Homo sapiens: one gene and its partners. The protein of the gene in region 3 interacts with the protein of the main gene of each other region in a biochemical or structural test. Each region holds a gene or a part of one and is shown on either strand. Other genes may lie near its edges.

What was found.
Region 1: the proteins of GAS1 (region 3) and PTPRA form a complex in vitro, tested with the Homo sapiens proteins (one study listed by BioGRID).
Region 2: the proteins of GAS1 (region 3) and RET interact in a biophysical measurement, tested with the Homo sapiens proteins (one study listed by IntAct).

What each region holds. Positions count from the first base shown.
Region 1 is NC_000020.11:2,876,461-2,883,483, reverse strand, and holds part of PTPRA (receptor-type tyrosine-protein phosphatase alpha isoform 1 precursor), read right to left. Parts: intron 1-7,023. UniProt on the Homo sapiens protein: Tyrosine protein phosphatase which is involved in integrin-mediated focal adhesion formation.
Region 2 is NC_000010.11:43,101,049-43,108,071, forward strand, and holds part of RET (proto-oncogene tyrosine-protein kinase receptor Ret isoform a precursor), read left to right. Parts: intron 1-1,293; coding exon 1,294-1,581; intron 1,582-3,716; exon of another isoform or gene 3,717-3,903; coding exon 3,904-4,145; intron 4,146-5,327; coding exon 5,328-5,523; intron 5,524-7,023. UniProt on the Homo sapiens protein: Receptor tyrosine-protein kinase involved in numerous cellular mechanisms including cell proliferation, neuronal navigation, cell migration, and cell differentiation in response to glia cell line-derived growth family factors (GDNF, NRTN, ARTN, PSPN and GDF15).
Region 3 is NC_000009.12:86,944,504-86,952,389, forward strand, and holds the start of GAS1 (growth arrest-specific protein 1 precursor), read right to left. Parts: upstream 3,004-7,886; 5' UTR 2,277-3,003; coding exon 1,239-2,276; 3' UTR 1-1,238. UniProt on the Homo sapiens protein: Specific growth arrest protein involved in growth suppression. Blocks entry to S phase. Prevents cycling of normal and transformed cells. Binds 20(S)-hydroxycholesterol (20(S)-OHC).

The DNA of each region.
Region 1 (7,023 bases), on a different chromosome or scaffold from region 3:
AGACGGGGTTTCACCGTGTTAGCCAGGATGGTCTCGATCTCCTGACCTCGTGATCCGCCCGCCTCGGCCTCCCAAAGTGCTGGGATTACAGGCGTGAGCCACCGCGCCCGGCCTGCACATTTCTTTCTAAGAAAAGAAGTAGTTCCTTTTTCACTCACTATTTAAATAATACTTTTACTTGAAGAGACAGATTAAGATATTATTTTTTCAAATGATATTTGCTAGGTTCAGGTTGAGTATTCCTTATCTGAAATGCTTGGGACCAGAAGTGTTTCAGATTTAGGTATTTTTCAGATTTTGTACTATTTGCATTATTCCTACTGGTTGCAAAATTAGCTGGGCATGGTGGTGCATGCCTGTAGTCCCAGCTACTCAGGAGGCTGAGGTGGGAGGATCACCCGAGCCCAGGAGGTCAAGGCTGCAATGAGCCATGATCATGCCACTGCGCTCCAGCCTGGGCTACATACAGAGTGAGAACCTGTCTCAAAAAAAAAAAAAAAAAAAAAAAGTGTTGGATTTGGAAGCCTTTTGGATTTCATATTAGGATTACTCAAACTGTAGCCACTTACCATAACAAAAAGTTGGCATTTTTTTAAAAAAGAAAAATGCAAAACTCATCAACAACTCTACCACAAGATAATTAACAAATAAGTGGACTCAACAGCCTGCCCATAGAGAAGTAATGAATGAATTTCATTCTTTTGTTCAGTCAAAGCAGCTGTTCCATTAATTTACATTCAGTCTATTATTCCATATAGTAATGTTCTTATGAAGGCAATCATTTACTATTAAAAATATGTCTTCTCCAGTACAACTTTCTTCCAGTAGCTCACAAAAGAAGTGGTCCTTATTCTTGGATGTAACTATTAAAAGGTAATCTAGGCCTGGCACAGTTGGCACGGTGGCTCATGCCTGTAATCCCAGCACTTTGGAAGGTCTTTTGGCAGGTGGATTGCTTGAGCCAGGAGTTCAAGGCCAGCCTGGGAAACATAGTGAGACCTCATCTCTCCTAAAAATAAAAAATAAAAAAAATAGGTATGGTGGTGCATGCCTGTGGTCCTGGCTACTTGAGAGGCTGAGGTAGGATGATCACTTGAGACTGGGAGGTCAATGCTGCAGTGAACCATGATGGTGCCACTGCACTCCAGCCTGGGTGACAGAACAAAACTGTCTCAAAAAAAAAAAAAGAAAGAAAGAAAGAAAAGAAAAAAAAGAGTATCTAGCGATACTGAGACATGCTAGAAGCTTCTGTACTTTTATAACCGTATACCAAACTTCCCACACTGCAAAATTTGTTCTAATATTGTTTGTTCACATATTCAGCAATGTTTTCTATACATCTTCCAACAGTATTTTGATTTCCTGACAAAATTATTTTCCATGTAGTACATCAGTCCATTTTTTGTTTAAGTGGGCCTTTTGGGGGTGGGGCAGGAAGAATCTGCCAAGGGTATGTGTTTTTTTGTCTTTTTTCTTTTTTTCCCCTGAAACAGTCTCGCTCTGTCTCCCAGGCTGGAGTACAGCGGCGCAACCTCAGCTCACTGCAATCTCCGCCTCCCAGGTTCAAGCGATTCTCCTGCCTCAGCCTCCCGAGTAGCTGGGACTACAGGTGTGCCCACCATACCTGGCTAATTTCTGTGTTTTTAGTAGAGACAGGGTTTTGCCATGTTGGCCAGGCTGGTTTCAAACTCCTGACCTCAAGTGATCCGTCCACTTCGGCCTCCCAAAGTGCTGGGATTACATGCATGAGCCACTGCACCCGGCCCCATTTTGTCTTTTATAAGAACAATAAACTTAAAAACTGGCCAGGCATGGTGGTTCACATGTGTAGTCCCAGAGCTTTGGAAGGCCAAGGTGGGAAGATCGCTTGAGCCCAGGAGTTCAATGCTGCAGTGAGCTATCATTGTGCCACTGTACTCCAGCCTGGGCAACAGAGTGAGACCCTGTCTCTTAAAAGCAAAAAACCCTCAAAATATAAATTTTAATAATTGAAGTTAGCAAAATTTTGTAAAGCATCTGATGGAATATCCTTTATCTTTAAACATCACTGCAAAAAAAATGTAGAGGTTCTTTTTATGTTCCAAATTTTTGGTTTTCAAATGTCTTCATACTGGTGACAGCCTCATATTTTATTATTTAATATCTCAAGGTTTTACATACTTTTTTTTTTTTGGAGACAGAGTCTTGCTCTGTCACCCAGGCTTGAGTGCAGTGGCGAGATCTCGGCTCACTGCAAACTCCGCCTCCTGGGCTCAGAGGATTCTCCTGCCTCAGCCTCCCGAGTAGCTGAAATTACCCAGAGGCACACGCCACCACGCCCGGCGAATTCTTGTATTTTTAGTAGAGATGGGGTTTCACTGTGTTGGCCAGGATGGTCTCGATCTCTTGACCTTGTGATCCACCCACCCTGACCTCCCAAAGTGCTGGGATTACAGGTGTGACCCACTATGCCCGGTCCTCCTCTTTTTTTTTTTGAGACACAGAGTCTCCCTCTGTCCCCCAGGCTGGAGTACAGTGGTGCAATCATGGCTCAATGCAGCCTTGAACTCCTGGGTTCAAGCAATCCTCTGCCTCAGCCTCCCAAGTAAGTGGGACTACAGGCACGTGACACCACACGGCTAATTTTTTATTTTTGGTAGAGATGGGGTCTCGCTATGTTGCCCAGGTTTGTCTTGAGCTCCTGGCCTCCTGCACCTCAGGCTCCCAAAACAGTGGGATTATGGGTGTGAGCCACCGTGCAGCTGGGTTCTACATACGATTAAAAGGAATCTTAAAGCAAGATTCCTATTAATGACAGAGCACGAAAGTTCATGTTTCTTATAAATTTCCTGATACTTTCCAATTTAGTAAGAGCTGACTTATTTGAATAGCTCACCAAGAATTCATCACAGGAGTTGGACAAGTGTCAGCTCTGACAACTTGTTTGCTTGTGCTTGTATTATTAGTATTTTCTTTGATCACTGGTTTCTCTGCATGTCCATTTTGTAAAGGCTAGTTCAATGAGAACTGGTTAATATAAACTGTTAACAACATGTTGCAATACATGGAGAACAAATGTATAAATATGTCTCTGCTCACTGCAGAATTCAGTCTCTTCCTTCAGGACACCCAAAGTTCTACAGTTAACACATTAACTGTTTGACCTATAGACCCAAGAAGATGCCAGAGACAATTCCTAAATTAAATGTTTTATCTTATCTTTTAGATAAAAACAATAAAAAGTTCTAAATTTTCTTCCAGTTCCCCTGGATCATCTTATCTACCTCAATTTGAAAACTACTGCTCTGGACTACAGCCACAGTGAACTTTTTAACAATTGCAAATCAGATCAGTTCACTCTCCTGCTTAAAAATCCTTCAAAGATTTAGCTCTGCCTTCAGGATAGAGTCCAAAATCCTTGCATGCCATACAGGACCCTCAACTCTGCTCCTTGCCATTCTCTAGTCTCAACACTGTCCTTAGTCTCTAGTTCTCAAGCCTGGCTACACATTAGAATCACCTGGGGAGTTAAAATATATATACAGGTATGCATCACTTAACAATGGAACACATTCTGAGGATGAGTCCTGATGTGATTTCATAATTCTGCAAACATCATAAAAGGTACTTACACAAAATGAGATGGTACAGCTTGCTACGTATCTAGGCTATATTGTATAGCCTACTGCTCCTAGGCTACAAACCTGTACAGCATGTTACTGTACTGAATACTGTAAGTAACTAACACAGTGAGTATTTGTGTATTTAAACATATCTAAAAATAGAAAAGGTATAGTAAAATTATGGATTATAATCTTATGGGACCACTGTGGCATATGCAGTCTCTCCTTGATGGAAACATCGTTATACTGTGCATGACTGTATACACATTCTCAGGCCCCAACTGAGACCAATTAAATTAAAATGGCTGCGGGTGGGGCATTTGCAACCCTGATTTTTCTAAGTTCCCCAGGTGAATCTAAAGTGCAGCCTAGGCAGAGAATTACTCTGTCACTGCAAGCCACCTGCCCCTTCCTGCTCACCATGGTCAGCCAGTTTTAGGTGCTCACCAAGCTCTCAATTAGGCCTTGCTACACCAAGTGTGATCCACCCACCAGCAGCATCTGCCTCACCCAGGAGCTGGTTAGTAACACAGAATCCCAAGTCCCACCCCAAACCTACTGATTCAGGACTTGGCATTTTAACAAGATTCCCAGATGGTTCATGAGCACATTCAAGTTAGCGAAGCGCTGCCCTGAGCTACCAAATCCCTTCTCAGCTCAGGGCCTTCACAAATGTTTAACTGCAAATGTTGTTTAGCTGCTGAACTTCTCTGACACTCCCGACACCCTATTCTTCCCCTTTCATCACATCTATAATTACCATAGGTGATTTTAATGTCTGTCTACTGCACTAACCTAAAAGTGTCATGAGGACAGACATCACATCTATGTTACTCTGGGGTGTCCCCAGCTTCCGGCACAATGCCTGGTATTTCCAACTGAACAGCATCTAGCCTTATATTTTATACTGCTATGATCCTATTCTAAACTTCCACAATATTTCAATCTCATCAACCAAATCTTTCTTCAACCACAAGTTGGCTTCAGTTACATAAATCTTGGAGATAATCTATATCACAGCACTGTACTTCTTTCAAAAAATCTAAATCAGCTACTGGTCTCTTTTTCCAAAGCAATGTAAATTAAACCTAATTCAAGGTATCATTACATTTCTTTGTAATAGCACTAGATGGGTTGTCAAGAAATGGCCCCATAAATTGCTGATAGTGCTGGAAACTAGTTCAACCTTTCCAGATTGCAATTAGGCACCGAAACTGTATCCTCTGACTTGGTGAGCCCAGGTTGGGAGTAAGAGTCCAAGGAAATAATCCAAAAGAAGTATTTGAACAAGGGGTATAAAAGTACCATTTATAATAGCAAAAAGGTAGAAAAAAATAAAAGAATAAAAAGGATTGCACCAACTACAGCTGTTGGCTGAGAGTGGTGGCTCACACCTGTAATCCCAGCACTTTGGGAGGCCAAGGCGGGTGGATCACTTGAGTCCAGGAGTTCAAGACTAGCCTGGGCAACATAAAAATGTCTCTACAAAAAATAAAAAAATTAGCTGGTCGTGGTGGCACAGACCTGTGCAGTCCCAGCTATTCAGGTGGCTGAGATGGGAAGATCATTTAGCCCAGGAGGTCAAGGCTGCAGTGAGCTGTGATCATGCCACTGCACTCCAGCCAGGGTGGCAGAGTGAGACCCTGTCTCAAAAAAACAAAAACAAATTTAAAAAAAACTACAGCTGTCGATGCATGGAATACTATACTGTGATTTTTTTTTTCTTTTTTTTGAGACGGAGTCTCGCTCTGTCGCCAGGCTGGAGTACAGTGGCAAGATCTTGGCTCACTGCAACTTCCGCCTCCTGGGTTCAAGTGATTCTCATGCCTCAGCCTCCCGAGTAGCTGGGATTACAGGCACGCGCCACCACACCCAGCTAATTTTTGTATTTTTAGTAGAGATGGGGTTTCACCATGTTGGCCAGGATGGTCTTGATCTCTTGACCTCATGATCCACCTGCCTCAGCCTCCCAAAGTGCTGGGATTACAGGCGTGAGCCACCGCACCCAGCCTGTGATTTTAAATGAACAAATACTTAAATGAGTAAATATAAAATATTTTATGCTATTGAAGAATTCAAAAATCATATTCTATATGTACTGACTGCTACTATAAAAATTATGTCTTGTACACTGACACAAATGGATGTGAATTTAGAGTAAAATAAATAGTTTTACATTTAATGGATTCTCTTTTCCATAGAGAATACATTAAAATAAATTTTAATGTTGGGCTATTTTTGGGCCTGCTGTTCAGTTTTATTAAGTTAGTGTTATATTATTGCTATTTTTGTTGTACTCAGACTCACTAAAAAACCATTTCTTCACCGGGCACGGTGGCTCATGCTTGTAATCCCAGGACTTTGGGAGGCCAAGACCAGCGGATCACCTGAGGTCAGGAGTTCAAGACCAGCCTTACCAACATGGAGAAACCCCGTCTTTACTAAAAATACAAAATTAGCCAGGTACAGTGACACATGCCTGTAATCCCAGCTACTCGGGAGGCTGAGGCAGGAGAATCGCTTGAACCCAGGAGGCAAAAGTTGCGTGAGCCAAGATAGCGCCATTGCATTCCAGCCTGGGCAACAAGAGCAAAACTCCATCTCAAAAAACAAACAAACAAACAAACAAACAAAAAACATCTCTTCAGCTTTGTCATTTGGAAACATTTATTATTGCACTGGAAGTAAAATGACAAGATTCTATATTTGGCCAGTTTCCCTCTCATAACTCAAACTTCCCCTGCATCTCATTTTTTTCCATGTGAAAATGGAGAAAAATAATGCAATAATGTTTACAAACTGACACTGAGCACCTCCAATGAAAGGTGCTGGCAAATACAAACATGAGGGGTGCAAAAATACAAAACAAAACACCCACCACCACCCGCACTGATCATCCTGCACAAGTTACTTTTATCCTTCTGAGCCTCAACATCTCCCTCTGTAAATTCAAAGAAACTGGCTAGAATCGCATAGGGTGGGGGAGGATTTGTGGAGGAAAAGTAGGCATATAATAGCTGAAAAAGCATCGTAGTTGATCCTCCTGAATTCTCCAAAGATCATCTATCCAGCTATACACTTTGGGGGAGAGGATAAATTGGTACAACCCCCCAGAAACGGGTGGCAGTTTGGCTCCATGTCTGCAAATCAAAAATGCAGACATATCCCTTGACCCAGTAATTCTACTTCTAAAAGCATATTGTTCAGATAACTTTGCAAATGAGCACATAACACAGTATGTACAAGGACATTCATTGCTGTAAGAGAAGAACCTGGAAACAAATATTTAACCCAAAGATGTTACAGTACAGCCATACAACTAAATAAGTAAAAGCATGTCAACAGAAAGAACAAATAACTCTCTATATATGTTGATAATAGAATGATTTCCTAAATATGTTAAGTAAAAAAACCCAGTAAG
Region 2 (7,023 bases), on a different chromosome or scaffold from region 3:
AATCCCAAGGTTTTGATTTAGCAAATGACCTGCAACTCTCTGGAGAAGCGGCAGTTCCCAAGGAAAGCCTGACTTCTTATCAGCAGCTGGCTGCCCTTGTACCTGGCAGGGACTTGGGCCTGTCCCAGGTGTCCAGGGAGGAAAGAGGAGCAGTCAGAGCCAGAGTCACGGCCACATGTGACATTGGTAATGGGAGGGGTGGGGGGGAAGCAGAGCCCCTGTGACAGGAAACGGTGATGCTGCACCTGGTAGCTCCCATCCCTAGCACCCCTCCAGGGCCACAGCTTGCACAGCCCTCACAACCACCCTGAGCCCTGTCTGCTGGTGAGAGGCAAGCCTCAGGCTATGAATGCAGAGCAGGCATCCCTGCCCTACCCAGGCCTATCTGCCAGGGACAGCCAGGGTGCAGGGGAGGGAGGAGACTTGGGTGGGCAACTCCCTCCGGCGCAGCCCAGGCAGTTCCTGGAGGAGGCAGCATCTGAGGTTGGTCGTGGTTCTACGCACTTAGTTGCTGCCCTCTTCATCCTGAGCCTCCAGGGTGGAGCTTGAGGAATGGGAGTCCCTGGGTGGGGGCCAGTGTGGAATTTGCCCTGGGCCTGCATTTCGTAGGAGGCCTAAGCCCTCCAAGGTGGGGAGAGGCTTCATGCACAGCCAGTTCCTGTGGAGGAAGAAACCACAGGGTAATTTAACAGGGAGAGTTTGTGTAAAGAATTAATTACAACAGGGGATTGGAGCAATGAGGGACAGGCTAGCAAAAAGCAAAGAGAATGCCAGAGAATATGGGAAGAGCAGCTCTGAGGAGCAGCCGCCCACCTAGGGCTGAGATGGAGGCTGGGAAAGCCCTCGCAGCCCAGCTGAAATGGCTATGGCGCTTCGGTGATGGAACTTGCCGGAAATGCCCCCTCTAGGCATTGGGGAAGTATGTCTGCGGCCACTCCAAACCTCCTGAGGAGGGTGTGGCAGGGGGGGTGCTGGTCACCCCTTACTGGAGAAGTTGCCACCATCAGAGTTGGGGAGCCTTAGACCCAGTGCTCAACACACCTCCCTGAGGAAGGGGCCTCTAAGCCAAGAACTGAATGATGAGAGCTAGGCCTGTGGGGCATTGGTGCTGGGCAGCAGGGCTGTGCAGCAGAGGTAAGGAGGTGGCAGGCAGAGCTGGAACACCAGTCTGAGCCTTGTGGACCTTGGTGGGGACCAGGGTTTACACCAGCCCTGGAGCTCCTGCCTCCTCCCCATTCCCGACTGCCTGGCAGATGTGGCCGATGCCCCCACAGACCTGACTTCTCTCTGCAGACCGCGGCTTTCCCCTGCTCACCGTCTACCTCAAGGTCTTCCTGTCACCCACATCCCTTCGTGAGGGCGAGTGCCAGTGGCCAGGCTGTGCCCGCGTATACTTCTCCTTCTTCAACACCTCCTTTCCAGCCTGCAGCTCCCTCAAGCCCCGGGAGCTCTGCTTCCCAGAGACAAGGCCCTCCTTCCGCATTCGGGAGAACCGACCCCCAGGCACCTTCCACCAGTTCCGCCTGCTGCCTGTGCAGTTCTTGTGCCCCAACATCAGCGTGGCCTACAGGCTCCTGGAGGGTGAGTGCCGACCTTGTGGGGCCGCCCCACAGTGCCTGCTACTGCTGGTCTTGCTCTGCGAGCCCTTGACACAAGCCATCTGGTTTATTCTTCACCTTCATGCCATCAGTTCATTCAATATTCCAGAAGTACCTCTTGCATGCCTGCCAGGGGCCAGGTACTGTTCTAGGAGCTAAGGATATAACAATGAACACAACGGGTTGGAATCTTGCCTGCCTGCAGCTTTCATTCTTGTGGGGCAGACAGAGCGTCTGAGCATGCCAAGGAAATCAGGTGGCTTCTGGAAGGAGCTAGCTGGGGAGGAAACTGGGAAGAGGGAAACGCTGAAGAGGAGGGGAACAGACGAGGAGACCTCCATTCCTCTATCGTAAATTGGGTGGTCAGGGTGGGGGCTAGCAGAGCAAAGGTGGGAGGGTGCCGGGTAGGCAGGCCTAGCCCCTTGGAGGGCACCACAGTGTGACCCTCGTGTGCCTGGAGTGCACTGAGCGACAGGGAAGAGCTGAGGCTGATGGGGCAGAATAGTTCCTGGGGCAGGGGGCAGGTCTGGGAGTGGCTTGCAGGGCTTTCTCCGGAGGAACATGGGGAGCTATGGAAGACTTTGGAGGGAGGGAGTGCTGGCAGGACCTGACTTAGTTTTAAAAGGATTAGTCAGACTACTGTGTTAGGAATGGTTTGGGGTGGGAAGGTTCAGGGGCGAAGCTGGGAGACAATCAGAAGGCTACAGGAGAAACCTCTGAACAGGAGGATGTGGGGTGTGATGCCGGGATACGGGTGGAAGCCGAGGCATGGCGAGAAGCAGGCAGCTGCAGCCAGTCAGAGGGTGGGATGAGCTGGATCCCAGTGGAGAGGGGAGAAGGCAGCTGACTAGGTGCAGGGAGGCCCCATTTGACCATCAGAAAGTCAGGAAGTGGGGCTCAACCAGGTCACAGAGGCTGCACCGCTGGCAAGTGTGTCCTAAATTCACACTAACTTTATCACACAAACATGGCAAGAATATTAAAATCTCAGTAAAGGAAGACAAGCCATCACTTATGCTTCCCCAGATTCCTTTCATTCTCTGGGGCAGGGTTGATGGAGCACTTGGTTTTTTGCATGCTGCCCTTTTTCACTAAAAATTATGTGATTAAATTTAGTTTAGTGGGGGGTTTTTTGTAATCACACTCAACAGAGGAAAGCATTATATGATAAGCATTTCCCACATACGTAATTCATGCGCAAGGCATGGTTCTGCCTGGGAGGCTTGTGGAGTTGCCCCCGCCTCCTTGGGGTGGGTTGTGGGGTCTTCAGCGGTGACCTTCCGCCTTCAGCATGCCCCCTTTTCTGGATTATTTCTGGAGGACAAATCCGAGGTCAGGCTCGTTGAAGACTGTGTTGTGGTTCCTGGCCCTGCTTCAGGGGCGATGTAGTCTAGCGCGAGCTGCCATGCAGGGCACGGAGCATTCGCTTTTGTCTCGACATCCGGCCTTCAGAGGATGACCAGCCTGGCGACGCACTGGACAAGGAGGTGTAGAGTGGGGATGCACACTAGGCGGTCGGAAATCATTATGCGTTAATGTCACATCATACCCCAGATGTCCACTGTGTTTGTTTTCAAGTGGTAGAATCGTGGCTTTCTCACGTTCTCTAAAATGAACACATATTGCTTCCATAATTGAAAAAAAAAAAAACCTAACAGTTTTTAAAAAGCAGCCAAGGTCACCAATATGGTGAAAGGCCGTCCCTACTAAAAATACAAAAATTAGCCGGGCATGGTGGCGGGCGCCTGTAGTCCCAGCTACTCGGGAGGCTGAGGCAGGAGAATCGCCTGAACCCGGGAGTTGGAGGTTGCAGTGAGCCAAGATCGCGCCACTGCACTCCAGCCTGGGCAACACAGCGAGACTCCATCAAAAACAAAAAAAAAGCAGCCAAGGCCAGTAGCTGGCTCTCTAGGGCTGCAGTGCAGCTTGGGCTGAGGCAAAGCCACCCTTCCCCACACAAGGCCACTCCTGATCAAGGCCAGGTGGGCGGAGGGGTGTCCCAGTCCCTACTGGTTGATCAGGGTGCCTGGTCCTGGCTCTTCCCAACCAGCACGAGTGAGGACGCAGCTGCAGCAGGACGTAAGCACAGTCATCGCTGCAAACTGCAAACTCGTAAGCACAGTCATCGCTGCAAACTGCAAACTCGTGCTCCGAGCGCTGCCCTCCCCTGTGGAGCGGAGGAGGGGAGGCCTGGGGCCGCGGCGGTGTGCGCCCCGCTCTGACCGCAGAGCCCCCTTCCCGAGGAAAGCGGCTGGCCCGGTCCCGGCTGGTGATCACGCGGGGCCCCTGTCTGCTTGGTGCGCAGGTGAGGGTCTGCCCTTCCGCTGCGCCCCGGACAGCCTGGAGGTGAGCACGCGCTGGGCCCTGGACCGCGAGCAGCGGGAGAAGTACGAGCTGGTGGCCGTGTGCACCGTGCACGCCGGCGCGCGCGAGGAGGTGGTGATGGTGCCCTTCCCGGTGACCGTGTACGACGAGGACGACTCGGCGCCCACCTTCCCCGCGGGCGTCGACACCGCCAGCGCCGTGGTGGAGTTCAAGCGGAAGGAGGTGCTTGTCCGCGCGTGCTGTGGTCTACCCAGTGTCTGTCTCCGGCCACAGTTCGTTTCTCGGTCGGTTTAGTGTCCGTGTAGCCACCCAACCGTGTGGCCGACCATTCGCGCTTTCATTTGTCCTTCGCCTCCGTCTGCGCCGTCTGTCCTAGGGGGAGGGGAAGGGGGAGTCCTGCCAGCACCCAGCTGGGCCTTGCCTCGGGAGGCAAGGACCAGGACGAGGCCCGAGGGCTCGCGTCTGGGGCATACTTGTGCCGCTGCAGGCGGGCGCGGCGCGCTGCCCGGGCGGGGAGCATCTGCCGGGAGGGCACTCCCTCCCACCAGCAGTTAGCCCCCAACGGGAGGGCCCTTGAGTGACCACGAGCAGAGCCGGGGATTGGAGAAGGACGGGAAGGCGGATCACCTCCGGCGCCGCCCGCCCCGCCCTTCTCCGGCTCGCGCTGGTGGAGCGCGACCGCCACCTGCTGGGCCTCGGCCTTCCTGCAGCCGGCCCACCCAGCAGGGGCCGTGGGAGAGTGGGCGTGGGGACTGAGGTAGGTAGTACGTTGCCTTGTTCCGCTTCTCTGGGCACACCACGTGCAGGTTTGGCAGGGAAAGGGGGTCTGGTCGAAAGCACAATTTGTGAGTAAAGGCTATGTGGGCCTCCCTGGGGTGACAGCAGAGGCCTGGTGGGCAGAGCCATCCAGGTGCCCAGCGGCTTTCCTCACAACCCCCTCCAGCCTGGGGTAGGAGGATGCTTGGAACAGAGCGCTCTGATGTACACCTGGCCTCGGAGCTCGGCTCTGCCGGCTGTTCCTGTGTGACCTTGACCTGACCTTCACCCTGTGGGGCCCAGCTTCCTCAGGGGAGAGTGGAGGTGCTCATCCTGCTCTCTGGGGACCTGGATGGGACCTGCCAGCAGGGTGCCTGGGCATCGGCTGTAATTCTCCTTATAAGAGGTCTGCATTGTACCTGTTACACAGGCGAGGCTCAGTGGCTCAGGGAAGGTGACGGCCAGGCTGGCCAGTGACCCCGTGGGAACTTGAACCCAGGTCAGACTGTCCCCAGACCTGGCTCTGACAACACACATCTGGTCCACCTATGGGCTGTGTGGGACGTGCAGCATTCTAAGGTCTCTGGTTTTGGGGGGTCTGAGGGGCCCATCTCGCCTGCACTGACCAACGCCCTCTGCATCCTGCAGGACACCGTGGTGGCCACGCTGCGTGTCTTCGATGCAGACGTGGTACCTGCATCAGGGGAGCTGGTGAGGCGGTACACAAGCACGCTGCTCCCCGGGGACACCTGGGCCCAGCAGACCTTCCGGGTGGAACACTGGCCCAACGAGACCTCGGTCCAGGCCAACGGCAGCTTCGTGCGGGCGACCGTACATGACTATAGTAAGAGGGGCTGGTGGCACGGCCTGGCTAGGCCCCCAGGAAATGAGGTGCTCGCTCTTCATGGGCAAGCAGCACCCTACACACATGCACACCTGGCATGGCCCTCTGTGGCCCAAGCCACTTCCCCTCCACCCTCTGCCCAGCACTTCCTGTGTCTCTGCCAGGCCTGCCCTCCAGCCACCAGCAGGGCTTTCACCATGGGACCTCTCTCCCTGAGCTGATCCATGGCCGACCCTGGCAGGGCCCCACCACACCCCCCTGCTGACCTCACCAGGGCTCACCACCGACTGCAAACACACATGTCACCTGAGGCTTTCCTCCAGCCCCTGGCACTCCATCGTTGCCCCTAAGGCGTCCCAAGTGCTTACGGATTATTGCTCCAGCCTCAGCAGCTCTCTGCTAAACAGGCTGGTGTACAGAAGCAGCCCCGAGCCAGGTCAGGGCTTCTGAGCCCATTATCCTGCCTGACTGCTGACATGCCACCATGCTCACCTGCTTGCAGGGCACCTTTCAGCAGCGGCCTTGCTTCCTGCCTCCCTCCGCCACCTCCTGCAGATTTCTCCTGGGATCGCCTTCCAAATAAACCACCTGCATTTGGGGTCTGTGTCTGGTGGAACCCCAGGCCATGAGTCCTTCACCCCTTTCTGCCTGGCCTGGTCCTGTTCATTCCTCAGTCCTCCCCACCTCACCAAGCCTATGGAGGCCCCACTTGTCAGAGGGGAGACAGCCTCCTTGCCCTGGCACTGAACACCCTGTGTGCCAGAGTGCCCCTCCCATCATTGTTTCCACCACATGAGATCCACAGTGGCAGCACGCGGCAGGTACACCGATGGCATGACTTCCAGGGCTTGGCCTGCGGGGTCATTGGGTCTGCTGGAGGTTCCTGCAGTGGAGGGTAGTTCTGCCATGCTCTGGGGGAGCTGTCTGGAGGGCTCTAGTGTGTCCTTCCCAGGGCCTTGGTAATGTAGACCTTTAACCCCCCATGCCTCACACACACACACACACACACACACACACACACACACACACACCCTGTTACCCAAAAAACGAAACTCTGTAAAACATTTTAAAGAGGTTTATTCTGAGCCAGGATGAGTGACCACAGCCTGGAGAAAACACAAACCCAAGAAGCCTTGAGTAAGTGGTCCCCAGGTCCAAGGTGGTGGAGTTACAGTTTGCTTTTATACATTTTAGGGAGACAGGAGTTACAAGCAAGGACATAAATCAACACACAGAAGGTATACATTGGTTTGGCCCCAAAATGCAGGGTATCTTAAAACAGGGGCTTACAGGTTAGAGGTAGATGCAGAGATTCTTTAATTTACAGTTGGTTGAAAGAGTTAAGCTTTGCCTAAAGACTTCAGGTCAGTACAAAGGAATGTTAAGGAGGCCTGCTATGTGTCGCCTGATGCTATACAGGGTCAGGAGGGAAAGTAAACCACGTTATACCTGGGTAACTTAAAAAAAAAAGGTTTTTAACAAGATTTTATGGACCAGGCA
Region 3 (7,886 bases):
AATGCATTTGTACATTTCTACAACGTCCATAAATTCTCTTGAAAATAAGAATGTTAACTTCAATTCTATAAAATACACTGTACATTTTAAGACTGTTCTAAATATAGCACACTTCACAATGGACTGTGGGTTTTGATTCCTGATGACAAATGGATTCTATACATTTCAGGGGGGAAAGGTGTAATATGGATGTGAGTTTAAAACTTTTAATTTCTTTTTAAAAATAAATTATTTCTGAAGCATACAATTTATAAAAATTCTATATACAAAGTACAGCAACTGGTAACAAACCCCAGTTTTAATACATTTTATATACGATGTACCAGGGTTTAGCAACCCTGATAGGAGCAGAGGCAATATACATTCTCCGCATATTTAAACATAAAATTTCTTGATGTAAAGAACAAAAATGACAAAAAAACAAACATCATAAAGAGACTTTCATACATGGCAGTGCAGAGCTTTTTTAAATAAAAAGTTGCATTGTTCAACACCATGGCAACCCCTTAGATCAGCATTTTTGGACCCTTAATCCTAAGAAATGTGCTAAGAGATCAGAGTGGTAGCAATGAAATTAAGGTCAAGGGCTCAAACTTATCCAAAACCAATTTAGGGGTTCCCTCTAAGGCAATCGCCACCCACCCTCACCCCCACGTCACTGAGAATTCTGGGCGCAGATACAAACAGTGAAAGAATGAATCGGTAAGTGGGACTTTTCTGTTTACATAGGATTATAATATCCTCACTGGCCACAATCTGTAAAAGTCGATACTGGCACTTTTTTTTGCCCCCTCAAAGGAAATATGCTAATAGACAGCCCCTTTGCAAATATAATTCCTCCTTCCCAACCCTTCAAATTGCTAAGGCCCCACTGGTCAGCACCTTCCCTTTCGAGTCCAGGACTACTGTTCTGTCCCCCACATGCTTGCTTCCTCCCGGACGTCCTGAACACTGCAGCTAGCTTTCTGGACGGCAGACGAGTTGGGAGTTTCTGGAGCTTGGAATTGGGGCGGGGGAGGAGGTCCAAGAAGTCAAGCTCCGGAGAGGAGCTTCAGGGGAAGTGCCCAGAGTCGTGGCCGGGGAACCGGCTACACCAAGTTGACTTGGAAAAAGTTTTGGGAAGTATCCCCAACCATCCCTTCTATCTGTCCCAAGCCACAGGTGCCCGGCGCGGGGTCGAGGCGAGCACGGGAGTGGGACGCGGGCTCTCCCGCAGCCAACGGCGGGGGGCGCGAGGGCTAAAAGAGCGGCCCAAGCAGCAGCAGCAAGATGGAGGCGAGTGGGGTCCAGGCGCCCCGGGGCGCCAAGCGGCCGCCGCCGCCGCTGCTCCTGCGCCCAGGCCCATAGGGCAGGTCCCCGCGGCCGCCCGATGCAGCAGCGCCGCTGCCCGGGCGCGGTGGGTGCGGGACGCCGTCGTCGTCGTCCAGCGGCTGCTCACCACCCGCGCCCCCGGTGCGCTGCTCGTCATCGTAGTCCTCATCGTAGTAGTCGTCCAGGCCCCCGTCCGAGCCGCTGCTGCCGGGGCCGTTGCCCAGCTCGGCGCCGAAGCACAGGCGGGCCATGTTCTCCTTGACCGACTCGCAGATGGGCCGCTCGAGGCCGTCGCACACGCAGTCGTTGAGCAGCGCCGCCTTGGGCATAGCCAGCATGTCCTCAATGACGGTGCGGCATTCGTCCGTGCAGCGCAGCCCGTTGAAGACTTTGCCGCAGTAGGTCAGGTAGCGGCTCAGCGCCAGGTTGCAGCGGCTGTCGCGGTCGCAGCGCCGCCGGGCCTCGGTGCAGCCCATGACCCCGCCCGCGCCGGGGCCGCCCGCGCCGCCGCCGCTCGTCCGGGGCAGGCACGGCTCAATGGCGCGCTTGGTGGACTTGCAGTTCTCGTCCTGCGCGCAGTCACAGTCCTCCAGGGCGGGCCCGCGGCGCGTGTGGTTGAGCTGAATGAGGGCCGAGATGCAGTGACTCGGGCAGCGCCAGCGCGACGAGAAAGAGGCGGCCGAGGCCGGGAAAGCGGCGGCGGCGGCCCCGGGCGCGTCGCCCCCGCCGTGCTGCGCCAGCACCGGCGCGCACGCCTCGGCGTACTGGTTGTAGGCGTAGCTGCACTCCGGCTCCCCCTGGCACTGCAGCAGCGCCTGCCAGCAGATGAGGCGGCGGCCGTGCGCCAGCCCCGATCCCCGCGGCGCCGAGCCCAGCAGCTGCAGCAGCGCCATCAGGCACAGCCAGGCGCCCGGCACTGTCCCCCCGCGGGCCTCGCCGCCGCCGCCCAGCAGCGCGGCCACCATCGCGGGCAGCGGCGGCCGCCGGGAGAGGAGGGGAAAGGAGACGAGGCGCGGGGAGCGGCGGACGCGGAGCCGGTGGAAAAGTTTGTCCAAGTCCTGCCCACTTCTTGCATGAGTGTCTTCATAAATCCATGCGCGCCGCTGGCTGATGCCCCGCTGGTGGCAGAAGGTCCCCTTTCGCTCTGGCTGCGGTGGCTTCCTGGAAATGAACAGCTGTCGAGATCTGGTCCCGCTCTCCCACCCGAGAGCCCTCCGCTCGGCCCCCGGTGGTGGCGGGAGAGGCTCACTGTCGCCCCGGGGGGGTGCGGGCCGCGGGGCCGTGGCGGGGCTGCAGGACCGCGCGGCGCGGCGGGTGCATTTTGCTCCGCGCCTGCAGATCCGTTGTGCGGCCGGCTGTCCCCGTGCCGGCTGCTCGCGCTGCGGCCGCGGCGGCTCCTTCCTCCTGGGCTCAGTGCCTCGCCGCCGCCACCGCCGCCGCGGTCTCTCGCATCGCGCCGCTTCCTGGCCCGGCGTCCGCGCGCTGCCCGCCTTCCCGCGGCCCGGCCGCCCCGCGTCCCCTCCCCCTCCGCCCGCGGCAACCCCGGCCTCCGCAGAGCTCCGGGGAGCTCTTTCCGGGAAGCGCGGGGAGAACAAGAAAGTCGGCGCTGCCGGAGAGCGGCTCCCTGGCTTCACTCGGCGGCAGCTTCTCGGGTGACCAAGAGCCCGGGGAGCGGATCCGCTGAGCCCGGCTGCAGACTCGTTAGCAGCGAGGCTTTAAATACAAAAGTGGGCCGGGAGCCCCCGCGTGGTGCCGCGGTGCCCCCTCATTATGCATGCATGGAAAAGCAAACAAACAAAAACATTAGCAACGCTCCTCCGGCTCGCCGAGCCCCGGCCCCGCGCGCTCCGAGCCTGCCCGCTTTCTCCTTTCTCCACTCTCTTTCGCCCTTTGCTCGGCCCCCTTTCCCGGCTTTTCGAGATGCTATTGGTCCTGCCTGTTGTTGTTGAAAGTTTTTTTTTTTTTTTTTACGAGCCGCTGGAGTGGGGTTGCGGAGTGGGGGAGGGCGGGAGGGTGGTGGGCAGCTCACATTCAGGCATTCAGGGCTTGAAAGGAACGGCTTAGGGAGCCTGACGGAGGCCCGGAGCTCCTCCTACTCTTAAGGAGGCTCGGATATGCAGCCCCAGCTCGCGCACAGAACCAGCGGGCAGGGCTTAGGGGCAGCTGTTTGCATCCGGCTCAGCCACGGGCCTTTTTTGTTTGTTTTTTTTTTCTTTTTTTTTTTTTTTGTAGTTTTATTAATTCTCGCTGGCCCCCATCTGTGCTTTCGACTGGATTCAGAACTCAGTTTATCTTCCAGGCTCCCTGTCTTTGGGTCTTGATCACCACAGAGGGGAAGGGGAGAATCCAGAGATAAAATGTGAGACTGAAACTGTTTTAAAGAAGCATACAAGAAAGAAGCACACACTTTATTAGGGAGATGTTGATGAGATGCTTACAACCCGCCCGCCACCCCCCAGCCCCAGCTAGGCCATCTGGCAGGTACCGCCCGTGCGCCAGGCATCGTTTTCAAATTGCAAGACCGAAATCCAATCAACCGAAATAATTTCTTAGGAAGATAAGCTTGCAACACGTGCAATAATGAAAAAATTTAACTAGCATTAAAAATATTCAGGAATGTCGAGCAATTACCACCTGGCCGCAGTCACAGGACAGAAGACGGAATAAATGGGCACGCACCAAAGGTTTATATTAAAGTGTAAGTTTCAGCCCCTCAGTATATTTAAGGGAGGCTGCTCTGCAGAGGAAACCTCTGCCTTCTCGGCGAGGGAGTTTCCGAGCTACCTTAACTGGGGCGCAACGCAGCCTTCCGCCACCAGAGGCAGCGGGCGTCTGCGGCCTGTCAAAAACTGGCGCTTTTTTCCTCCCCTTTCCGTGGAGAGACTATCAACTCCATCTGTCACAAAAATTAAGGCTAAATCTCCTCTCCAGAAGCAGAGGGAGCCGGGGCTCCGACGCGCTCAGCGTCGGGCTGTCTGCCTCTCCCTAGAGGCCAAGTGAATTTGAAATGGCAAAAGTCACAGCCGGAGGCCCAGCACTAGGAGATTCCTCCGGCTGCGGGAAATCTTCCTGTACCTGCTGAAGCTGCTGCGTTCCTCAGAGGCGCTTGGTCTGCCGTGGGAAGCTGCACCTCTGCAGTCCCCAAAACCAAAATCAAACCTTAAAAGAGCCAGACTGAGGTAAGGCGGACCGTCTTGCTCTGATTTGAGTATTGGTAGACAAACAGCAATATAAATCGATACTAAAAAAATCCAGAAAGGCTGCAACTTCATGGCACATCAAAACAACCATATCCCTGGCTCTCTGTCTCTTTTTTTTTCTCTATTATTTGGAGTTGTCCTCTCAGTCCGGCCTGGAGGACTTGGACAACTCAGACACCTTCTCTGTGTCTGGGATCCCTCCACAGGTAAGGTTCGAAGCCAATTAGACAATTGAAAAATCCCCTCTTGTCTTTAAAGCTTTGTTATTTTAGGCCCATAAGGAACAAAGTCAGCACTCGGTTTCATCTTTACTTGAATTTTTGTTGAGTTCCTTTAGAATAGTGGGACCCAAACCTTAGCACGTATCCTAAAACTCAGATCCCTAGTTTTTGGAGTTTCTGATTTAGTTGGACTGGTGGGTCCCAAGAATATGCATTTCTAACAAGTTCTCAGGGAATGCTGCTCTCAAACTTTGAGAATCACTGCTCTCAAAGTTAACATGTTTCTTTTCTGTGTTGTTGCTGTGTTTTTGGTAACACTTGCCCCACCTTGGCCTTGATACAGCTCTCAGTGGGGTTTAAGGGAGGCCCAAGAGCTCTGCATGCTTTGGGGACTTCTGCATCCCAGTCACATAGCATTAGCATTGCAAGCCTGAGGGGTTCTCAGCCCACTTTTTACTGTGTCATTTCCATTCACCACAATAGGCTATACTGTCTTCTATCTTAAAAAAACATAATAGTAAAACCTTCTAGACTCCACGTCCCTATTCAGTCACTATCCCATTTTCATGAAAACTTGAAAATCTTGCTTTTACTCACTTTCCCCACTCGATTCACTCTACATAATCGAGTTCCATTCGATTATGTAGAGTCGCTAGTGACCAAAACCTTGCTCTACCTGATTGTCACTTCTCAGTCCTCAGCTTATATGACGTTTCAGCAGCATTGGCCATGACTGATCACCTCCTTTTCAAAGCGCTTTCTAAAATTTTGGCTTCCGAAACTCCATACTCCCCTGTTCTCTCATTTTACTGCCTGGTGGCTCCTTCTGTCTCTCAACTCCTTAGGTAACCACATCTAGTGCCTTGATTTTAAATTGCATCTCCTAATTTGATGTTTTCAATCTCAGTCTTTCTCTGATCTCCATATGTATATATTCACTTGGTTCCAAGGACATCTCAAACTTAAGCTTCCCCAAGAGCACTTCTAAATTTCCATCCCCAAAACCTATTTGTTTACTGGGCTTACTGTGGTAGATACCCTCCAAAATTGGTCTCCATCACTTTTCTCCCTACCTTTACATCCTTACTACTCAGATCAAAAGGCAGAGTATAATCCCCTTCCCCTTGAGTCTTGGGTAGGCCTTACTGACTTTGACCAATAGGACATAGTGAAAGTGACTGACATTCTGGGGCCTCCAAGGCTAGATCACAAGAAGCCTTGCAGCTTCTACTCGGGCCTTGTATTAGTCCGTTTTCACACTGCTGATAAAGATATACCCAAGATTGGGCAATTTACAAAAGAAAGAGGTTTACTGGACTTAGGGTTCCACATGGCTGGGGAGGCCTCACAATTATGGTGGAAGGCAAGGAGGAGCAAATCACATCTTACATGGATGGCAGCAGGCAACGAGAGGGCTTGTGCAGAGAAACTCCTGTTTTTAAAACCATCATATCTCATGAGACCCATTCACTGTCATGAAAACAGCATGGGAAAGATACACCCCCATGATTCAGTCATCTCCCACTGGGTCCCTCCCACAATATGTGGGAATTATGGGAGCTACAAGATGAGATTTGGGTGGGAACACAGAGCCAAACCTTATCAGGCCTCTTGGAATACTTGCTCTGCAGAAGCCAGTCACCACGTAAGACATCTGGACCACCTTCAGACTCGCATGCTGTGAGGAAGCCCATGCTTACTATGTGTAGAGGATACATGGAGAAGGAAAGAGATGCCTGGCCAGCTCCCTGCTGTTTCAGCCATGTGAGTGAAGAAGGCACCAGACTTGTGAGTGGAGACACTAACTTGGATGTCCAGCCCAGCTGAACCTTCAGGTGACTCCAGCTCTAGCTGCCATCCTACTGAAGACACATGAGAGAGACCCCAAGCCAGGGTCAAGATCAGCGTGAAGCAAGTGAGGCATTTTGGTGCAAAATGTAAGGAGGCATTGACCTTCATAATTGGGCTCCAAGACTCCAAGAGTGAGTGCCTCCTTAAATTTTGTACTTTAGACACTACACTCACCTTTCTCTAGTTCTGGTCTTGCCTCAAGCAAGAAGAGCAGAGCTTAGCTCAGTCAACCCAAAGAATCCTGAGAAATAACAAAAAAATATTCTTTTAAGCCACTCAGTTTTGAGATGGTTTGTTATGCAACAATAGAGCATTAGAACTTTTCTTCCTGTCCAATTGCTTAGGTGAAAGATGCTAGTATCTGCCTGAATTCTTTCCTTTTCTTCACATTCTACATTCAATTAATGGCTCATCATAGGTGTCAATAAAATATTTGATAAGTTGAATGAATGAAGAATCAGCACTTCTTGTCTTCTAAATCAGCCAACTCAGAACTAGTCCAAATCATTTCTACTACAAAGAACAGTAATAAAGACCCTGAGAGATTAAAGAATACAGAATAGTTCTGAAGTTTTAAAATATAAAATTATATTTCCAAAAGGGTTGACTGGTTCAGTGAAAGAACAAAAACCTCAATCAACAAATACCAATTACCTTTTGGTGCTTTAGCAACATAACCCAGATAAAGTAGGAGGAGATAGACTTCTGCCCTCAGAGGACTCAACAATATGTCACTTGGCCATTTGGAGTTGTCAGAGGCTCTAACCACTTAGCAGAAGTCTTAAGTCACAGACACCCTGTATTAGTGTGTTCTCACACTACTATAAAGACTGGGTAATTTATTTAAAAAATAGGTTTAATCTGCTCATGGTTCAGAAGGCTTTATAGGCTTCTGCCTCTGGGGAGGCCTCAGGAAGCTTACAATCATGGCTGAAGGCAAGTGGAAGCAAGCACTTCTTCACATGGCTGGCAGGAGAGAGAGAGCAAAGGAGAGGGGTGCTACACATTTTCAAACAGCCAGATCTTTTGAGAACTCACTCTCACAAGAACAGTATGGGGGAACTCCCTCCATCCCTTCCCCATGATCCAATCACCTCCCACCAGGTCCCTCCTCCAACACTGGAGATTATAATTCAACATGAGATTTAGGTGGGGACACAGAGCCAAACCATATCACATTCACTCTCTTGTTTTCTTTATTTACTTGCATTCTTAAAACCAGAAAATATTAATACTTCAGTTTGTGGCAGATACTGCATGGAAACCAAGCACCATCTACTCTAGAATTCTACATTAGACTTTG